2 separate regions of the Homo sapiens genome follow, and region 2 is linked to region 1. Evidence: fine-mapped expression QTL. A gene starts in region 1. The other region holds a variant in brackets. All regions are shown on one strand. Distances are from middle to middle.

Evidence for each region. PIP is the estimated chance that this variant, and not a neighbour inherited with it, causes the effect.
Region 2: its variant is the best candidate, but not a certain one, in a credible set for the expression of SEMA6C in fibroblasts (GTEx, PIP 0.57).

What each region holds. Positions count from the first base shown.
Region 1 is chr1:151,144,619-151,148,998 of GRCh38, reverse strand. SEMA6C (semaphorin 6C) reads left to right here and starts at 2,368. Exons shown (of 19, transcript NM_030913.6): 1 at 2,368-2,566. It also overlaps a transcript of LYSMD1 not described here. RefSeq lists silencers at 1,891-1,950, 2,161-2,620.
Region 2 is chr1:151,053,082-151,057,461 of GRCh38, reverse strand. It overlaps CDC42SE1 (CDC42 small effector 1), which reads left to right. Exons shown (of 5, transcript NM_020239.4): 2 at 1,469-1,785; 3 at 2,336-2,446; 4 at 3,141-3,231; 5 at 4,135-4,380. The coding sequence starts at 1,732. The coding sequence ends at 3,215. Among named protein-coding and RNA genes, the nearest start is that of CDC42SE1, 4.4 kb to the left of the region's middle. The variant GTTC/C (reference allele first, on the strand shown) is at 2,170.

The sequences.
Region 1 (4,380 bases):
CCTTGTTTACTTGCTAGTAGGTCTCTGTCTTCTTGCTTAAAAAAATAAAAAAATACAAGTTGCACCCTTTTTCAAGAATTTAAAATGACGTCCTACTCCTGTCAGATGATTTTAACCAGCTCACCTAGTCATTCCAGGCCTTCTGTAATTTGTCTTCCCCTTTTCCCTCCCCTTGCTCCTAACTAGTGCCTTTCCCACACACCAGCCTCACAGGACCTTTTTTTTATCCATGCTGCAGGCTCCTTGCTAACCAAGTAAAAGCTTTTGCTGAAGCTGTGTCCCTCGGGAACATTTTCTTCTTTTGCACCAAGCCAACTCCCACCAAAGTTTTCCTGTCCTTCATGATAAAATGTATCCAGCATCTTTCTGTGCAGTCTTCGGAGAATATTTATTGTCTTCTTTGCACATTTGGAAATTTATGTTCAATGTAGCTTTTCTTTTGAGACTTGGTGTTGTCTTTTTAATAGTTTAGTACTATTAAATATTTAATATTTAGTACTGTCTTTTTAATAGTTTAGACTTTTTAATAGTTTAGTATGTGCAAATCTTATTTTAATTCAAATATATTATCATTTTCTTAAAGTCTGGAACCACAACCCACAGTGGATTGTGTAGTAGATTGTGTCTCAAGTAAGTGTTTAATACTTACTGGATTGAACTGAGATTTGAGCTGGGTCCTAAAACTTTAAATGAATTACACCTTAATCCCCACTCACTAATCTATTCCATAAGCATGTATCTGAGTACCTAAACCCTGTGCTAGGAGCTGAGGAGATTTCTTTTAACCTCTCAGTGCCTCTGTATTTTGAGGTGTCTTTCTCTGAAAATTTCTTTCCAGCCTTTAAAACAACCCCAACTGTCTGACAGTTTGTTGAATTGCCTTGGACCCAAGATCCCTCGGCCGTTAATTCTGTGTAGATATTGTCCCTGTTTATCTTCTTCTATTTTTTTTAGATCTGACTTTACTGAGTTACTGTTCATCTTACTGGTTCACCTGGCCTTAAATCTGTCTCTCTGTCTCTCTCTTTCTCTGTATGTGCGTGTGCACATGTGTGTGTATGTTTAGGTCTCTTGTGTACTCGCTGTGGGGCTTAGCCTAGTTGTTGATACTCCCCTCCCTGATCACAGTCCAGTTAAGGCTGGCCTAAAGTGGCAAACCCCTTCCCCCTCCTTTCCTCTAGTCCAGAGTCCAAGATGTGGGTAGAAGTGTTCAGTCAGATAAAACTATCTGAGAATGCCAGTGTCTCCCAGGCCACCCACTTTCCTGGAGAATTTTGAGAATGTCTTTTGTCCCAGCCCCACATAGAGAAGAATCCTACCAGGCAATACCAAGGTACCAAGCAATCCTGTCTGTAGTAGTTTATTCTTCCTCCTCACTGACATTCCCAGGGGCTTTATGAAGGGTGGGGAGGGAGAAGGGGCAGTTTTGCTGTTTGGAGGGATGTCACGGTCCTCTGAGGAAAGGTGGGACGTATGTCTGTGGGGCAGGAAGGCTGTGTGGGTTACTTTATCAAGTCTTAGCGTTGCTACTCTTTGTGCCTTTCTCTGAGTCAGTTAGTCTTGATTTCCACATCTGTTTTGGCTTCAGCCTCTCTCACCTGCCCTCTTCCATTACCCAACAGCCTGACTGCTAGCTAGTTCTTGCCATAGTGGCCCAAACTCATGCTGCTTTGTAGAGGTGGGAGGGGAGGAGATCATGGAAACAAGGGAAACCTCCTGCTGACACCTTCCTTTCCTTTCCCAGGCCTCCAGCCCCCACGCGCATGCTAGGCCTCCTTATCCGGGTCAGGACGAACCAGAGGAGGCCTACGGGGAGAAATAAGGAGACAGAGGGACAACGCATAGAGAGGAGCAACAGAGAGTTGGGGGCAGAGTCAGGGAGATGCGGGATGCGCCCTCGGGAGCAAGGTCGCCCAAGCCGTATAGGAGGGGAAGGGAGGACGGATCGCGCAGGCTCTGACAGCCCAGCCCAGCCCCGCGAGGCTCCCAGGTTTCCTGTCTGTTTCTCCTCCCAGCTCCTCTTCCTCTCTTGGGAAATTTCTCCCCAGAGCCTCTCCTGTGCCAGCCTGTCTCTGCTTCTGTATGTATTTCTTCCTCTGCCCGGTGTCGGCGACTGTCCGTGGGTCTCTCCATCTCGCGTCTGTCTCTGGTCTCCAGTTCAGCCTCCCGGCCTGGCCCTCTGGGTGGACGGTGCTCCTGGCGCCCCTCCCCGGGCAGCACTATTGGCGGAGAGGTGACGAGAAGGCGGTGTCTAGCCGCCCTCCGAGGGCGGGATTAGTCGCGGCGACCCAAAGGCGGGCAGGAGGTGGGCCCGGCTGGGAGGCGGGCGGGGCCACTGGGGCCGAGCCCAGAGCCCCGGGCGGTCGCATTGTTTTCCTCCGCGGATCCGCGGCTGGACTTGGACCCAGGGCTCTCCCGACAGCGCCCTGGAACCCAAATTCAAGCACCATCCAATTCGGACGCTCATCGCATCTCGCCTGAGCACAACCACGGATTGCGAACTCAGCGCAGCGCGTGGCCGCTGGCCGCCCGCGGCGATCTCGATCCCGCTGACCCGAATCCTGGAGCAAGTACCCCGGGCAGGGAAGGGGCTGCGGGGAGGCGGGGAGGGAGCAGGAGGGCGCGGCCGGCGGGGGGCAAGCTTCTGAAGCGCTAGGGGACCAGGGAGGTGTCGGCGCCCGGTGTGCCTGGCTGACGGAGAGGGTCAACGAAATTGGGGTGCAGGGAGGAAGGAGGGACAGTGGCCGAGCCCCGTAACTGTACTGGTGAGAGCAGAGTCTGGGCACCTCGTTCAATTGGGCTTTCGTCGAGTCGCATCCCGCTGGACTGGGAAGCGCGAAAAGGGATTATTTGAGGCGCGCTCCGTAGAGAGCGTGGAAAACCTGGCCCCTTGCTTTCCCAGCAAGGAAACTAGGGCTCCGAGACCCACGGAGAACTAGACCCTCCTGACGCCCCTGAAGGGATGGGAAGAGGGACGCATCGTTCCGGACTTTGTGTCACGGGTGCTCCTCTGTCCTTGTGCAAGCCGGAATCTGAGCACCCTCTGAAGGGTTGGCTCGTGCAAAGAGGCGGCGAATGGGGCCCTCGAGCAACATCGGTCCCAGCGCCTATCTCCTTCCTTCAGCCCGCTCGGCCCGGGGCTTTGTTAGACTGAGGTCTCCCAAGGAGGACATCCGAGCTGGCAACTGCCTCCTGAGCCCACGGTCCCCACTGAGCGCCGGCCTCAGGCCCGCCCTCGTCGGTTCTCAGCCTCTGGCCCTGTTTCCCTGGCCTGGGAGACCCGCCTCCGCTCCCCAACCCCCGCTCCTATCCCCTCTTCGTCTGCGCCTGCAGGCCCCTCCAGCCCCTCCTCTCGCTAACGTGGCTCTGGGACCCGGTCCCGGCCCAGACTCTGCTACCGGCCCCTCCTCGGAGCCCCGGATCCGGTGAGGGGGAGACAGGTCGAGCCCCTGGCCCTAGGCCCACCTCTTTTCGAGGCTTTAGACACCTGGATTGTCCTGGTTGGGGGTTGGGTGGGAAGGAGGGTAGGTGCTGAGTGTGGGGCTAAGAGCTAAGAGTGGGGGAAATGGCTTGGAGAAAGGAAAGCTCCGGTTCCACAGGCTCCTTGGCGCGACCCTGCTCCCTCTGAGGAAGGTGGACTGGGGCGGGCGACCAGCCCAAAGGCTTCCTGCTATTGTCCCCAGCCCAGTCTCCCCTTCTCCATCCCTTCCACAGCTCTCCTAGACTCTGGCTGTGACCCCAGCCATTCCCCAGAGGTGGCTTCGGGGCCAGGAGAGAGAAGGGCTGTTTCCTCTTCCCAGCAACGGGAGGATCTGGAAAGGGGAGAGTCGGCCAGGTCTCTCCCATGTGCTTCAGATGGGGTGTGTGAAGCAGCTCGGATTCTTCCAGGGCAGAGTGATCTTTTCTCCAGGCCAGGAGTTGAGGAGCTGACCAGATGCTGCTTCCCAGAAACAGCTACAAGAAGCCCTCTTAAAGGTGTATCATAGTTGAGTCTAGAAGGCCAATGCAAAGGCCAGCCAAGTGTTTGTAGAGGCTGGACTAATCCAGCCTAAAGTGGGGTGTGAGTGTGTGTGTGTGTAGACTGAGTGGAAGGGAGGCACAGCCTGCTCTCTCAGGGAGGAAGGAAAGGGTTGAGGGTGCTTGCTATCAGATCATTTTGCCTGGAAATGAAGAGCATGTAAATGAGATGCAAATTAGCCTCTATTGTCCCTAGCTAAGGCGCTTTTGCTAAGAAGGCTGTTGGATTCTGAGGGCCTTAACATGGGAGTGGTCGCCATGCCCCACAAACTCTCCCAGTGACCCCCTTTGCCAAGGCTAGCCCTGTAGTTCTAGCAGTTTCTAGAAAGGGGCCATCCCCTTCCCCTGCATCTCTGGGCATAA
Region 2 (4,380 bases), 92 kb after region 1:
CTCACTGCAATCTCCGGTTCAAGCGATTCTCCTGCCTCAGCCTCCCAAGTAGCTGGGATTACAGGCATCCGCCACCACGCCCAGCTAATCTTTTGTATTTTTAGCAGAGATGGGGTTTCACCATGTTGGCCAGGCTGGTCTGGAACTCCTGACCTCAGGTGATCCGCCCACCTTGGCCTCCCAAAGTGCTGGGATTACAGGCGTGAGCCACCACGCCCGGCCTATCTCTTGTTTTTAAATCAGTCTAGGGTGCCAAAGCATCAGGGTTCCCGGCCTGCAAGAAAGGGAGATTCCTGTTCATGTTAAAGTGTCATATTTATGAAACTGCCCTTTTTGGAATCTTTGAGGTTGTCTGTACTATAGGACTGGGGAAATGCAAGTGAGTCTAAGAAGAAACCCAGATGTGTCCTACCCTGGCTGGCAGTAGTGAGAAGGGAGGAAGTTCTTCCTTGGACACTAGTACTATTGGAAAGTTCCTTATGTCTGGTTCACTGATGAAGCTTGAGGATAGAATTGGTGAGGAGGGAGGGGAGAACAGGTCACAGCTGGAGGGGAGCCTGGGCCCTATAGGGTGTGAGGCAGAGCAGAGTGGCAGATAGGACATGTGGACGGTGGGGAAAATATTCCTCATGGGACAGAAGATACCTGGCACATGTACCCACAACCTGTACACAGATGATCTGTACTGGACACACGTGGAGATATGGCCATGCCACGCATGTGCAAACAGAGGTGTACACACAGGAGTGCAGTGATACAGGACACAGATAAACAGAATGTACACAGCCTTCAGGAAGGATCTCAAGGTCAGGTAATAAAGGAACTGCTGCTGACTGGCTTCTGGGAGGGATTGGATTTCACTGGAGGGAAATCAGGAGGAATAGGGCAGCAAACAGAGAGGGAAGAAATTCCTTATTGTAGAAAGTCTTTCCTGAGGGCCAACCTGCCAGTTAGTCTCCTAGGACCTCAGTGGTCCAGGGCTCTCCTGTTCTTAAAGAAACTCTAGGCGTTCAGGGCAAGGTAAGAAAAAAGGCAGGGACAGGGTGGAGACCTTGTTTGTGAGAACAAAAAACCACTATTTCCTCTTCAGAGTCACTTAAATGCCCCTCCCCTTCTGCCCTAAACTCAGAGAGAAGGGAGCTGGAGCTTGTATCACCCCAAACTTTGCTAATTTCTGCCACTATCCTTTGGTCCTCGCCCATCCTCTTAACTCTAAGTGCTTCTAGCCCCCTTCCTCTCCCTTGGTACCACCAGCCACTGCTCCTTAACCCCTTGGTGTCCTTTTGGTTCTGTTCCTTTTTTTTAGAGTCAAACTGAGGTTCATAGTGTTTGGGAATGAGTGTTGGTGTACAGGTCTAGGGCCTCTCAGGGAGGACTGGGAAGATATAGGCTCATCAGGAGGTTTCTCAAGGATTGGGGGAGGGGGAGATTTCTCACTGATCTTTCTTTTTACTTTCTTCTAATCCAGGGTTCCGAGTCTGAGGAAGACATAACCTTGTGCCTGCCTGCCCACCTCTCTCTCTGGTCCTGTTCATCTCTCAGGCTCTGAGACACTGACCTTCACTGCTCAGTTAAAGGTTCCAGGGATTCCACTTTGTCTGGACCCATCCAGCTGAGTGAACCCAGGGTGGTGGTGTATCTGGGGAGAGTGAGGAGTGGGTTGTCCAAACACCAGGGAAAGAGCCCTTTGGGGCCTCAGACAGCGGAGTGAAGCTGGAACCATCAGGGAACATGAGTGAATTTTGGCACAAACTGGGCTGCTGTGTGGTAGAGAAACCCCAGCCGGTGAGTCTCCCCACCCCCCATCCTAACCCAAAGAGCAGTCAGTTACTGTGTGCTGTGAGGTAGCCACACCATCTAGGATCTGCCATCTAAAAAAGCACACTTCTTGCCTCCCTCTGTGTCAGGAGCTTCTATGGTCAGGCAGCTGTATATGTGGAACAAAGGGGACTGGGTGATGGAAGAAGTGAATAGTCCTAGCTATTACCTCCTGTTCCTGTCCATTCTGAGCTGGGTGGGGTTTGTAGGTGGAGCTGCATACCTGTCAGTTTTCCCCATTATTTCATCATCAGTCAGAGGTGACTTTGACATGTCCTTTCTTTGTCCAGTGTTCACTCTGCAGGCCACTGCCCTCACTACTCTGGTTCATGTCTTCTGTGTGCTTTTGTT[GTTC/C]CAGCTTTGCCTTTCATGCCCTAGTGATTTCCCTGTTAAAATGCCACATCCCCTCTTCCCACCAGGCCCTTAGCTTTTCAGTGGTTTTGAAGACTCTTTTCCCTTCCTCCGTGCTGACTGGAGGAGGGGCCTTAAGACATGACTCCTTATCTTCTCCAAGCAGAAGAAGAAGAGAAGACGGATTGACCGGACCATGATTGGGGAACCAATGAATTTTGTTCACCTGACTCACATTGGCTCAGGGGAGATGGGGGCCGGAGATGGACTTGCCATGGTAACAAGGAAATGGGGAGAGGTTGATACAGGGGTGAGGTCTATAACCGTTCCCTCTTTTTGAAAGTTCAAGCTAGGGACATATGAAAATACTCAATGGGGAAGTAAAAACCTGGGATTCTAGTCCTGGTCACCAGTTGTGGAAACCCGAGACCTGGCATTTTAGGTGTCTGGGCCTAGGTTCTCTCATCTTTACAACTTAGCAGATTGTTCTTCACTGGGGTAGGGGGTATATATATCTTAATAGTTGGAGGGCTTTTTCCAAAAACTTATAACTCTCCCTTCTCCTAATTAAGAACTGCTATCTCAGTGCCACAGTAAATCATATATTTAGGAGTGTTGGGACAGGAAAAAAGCTGAGTACCTTCATCCTAAATAATGTCTAAGATGCACTTCTGTTCCCAAAATAAGGGAAATGGGTCTAGAGATAGTCTTTTCTCAGATCCTGAAACTCAGATATATAGGGGAGAATCCATTGTGAGGGAATATTATTAGTAAAAGACCCATTTTACCTCATCCTCATGAAGGCCAGTGTGAAAAGAGGCATTGAGACTCCCCTAGGAGGAATGGTGGTTAGCAGATGGCTGCTATTGTCAAGGAGATGGCGTCAGCCTCTTCCCTGGAAGGCACAAAGTAGAGTTCTTACTGTAGGATATGAAGACTTACGAAGGTGTCTCGCATCTGTTTTTTTACAGACAGGTGCAGTTCAGGAGCAGATGAGATCCAAGGGAAACCGAGATAGGCCATGGAGCAATTCTAGGGGCTTATAGCTCCAATAATGGAATGGTGAGTGATTAGAGAAACCCATCTAACACCTCAGCCCCCATAACAGCACAACCTGATACCCTGACTCAGAACCCTGATCTTATGCAAGAAAGGGAGGTGTGGCCGGGCATGGTGGCTTATGCCTGTAATCCCAGCACTTTAGGAGGCCGAGATGGGTGGATCACTTGAGGCCAGGAGTTCAAGACCAGCCTGGCCAACGAGGCAAAACCCTGTCTCTACCAAAAAATACAAAAATTAGCCGGGCACAGTGGCGTGCTCCTGTAGTCCCATCTACCTGGGAGGCTGAGGCATGAGAATCACTTGAACCTGGGAGGCGGAGGTTACAGTGAGCTGAGATCGCGCCACTGCACTCCAGCCTGTGTGATAGAGCAAGACTCTATCTCAAAATATAAAAAAAGAATGGGAGATAGGGAGGAATTAGAAGGGAAGATTCAAGAATGTAGGATCTAGGCCGGGCATGGTGGCTAACGCCTATAATCCCAGCACTTTGGGAGGCCGAGGTCAGCAGATGACTTGAGGTCAGGAGTTTGAGACCAGCCTGGCCAACATGGTGAACCCCTGTCTCTACTAAAAGTACAAAAATTAGCCAGGCATGATGGCACACGCCTGTAATCCCAGTTACTCAGGCGGCTGAGGCCGAAGAATCACTTGAACTCGGGAGGTGGAGGTTGCAGTGAGTCTAGATTGCGCCACTGCACTCCAGCCTGGGCAACAGAGTGAGATTCCATCTCAAAAAAAAAAAGAATGTAGGATATAGAAAGACTGAGAGGGTGTTGTGCAGACAGAAGTAAAGAACACACTGTGGAAATAGCTTAAAGTCTGCACTAGGTAGTGCCTTCTTCCTAAAGCCTTGGTTTTCTTTGAGGCTAATCTTCTTTAAGAAAAACTTTTTTTTTATTTCAGGTTCTGCCATCTTGAAACCCCCATTCTGTTTCCAGCCCAGAAGAAATGCTGCCCCTACCAGATCCCTCCTTGAACCAGTGATCTAAGGACCCCTCTTTTCCCTATCTGCCTAACAGTGCCTCACAAGGCTTGGGGGCTGGACTCCCTCTACTCCCTCTGGCCATAGCCCCTCCTGGAGATGGGGTCAAGGCAGCAGGACTGATCAAGTGACTACTGGTTAGCCAGAGGAGCTCAGCTGAAGCCCTG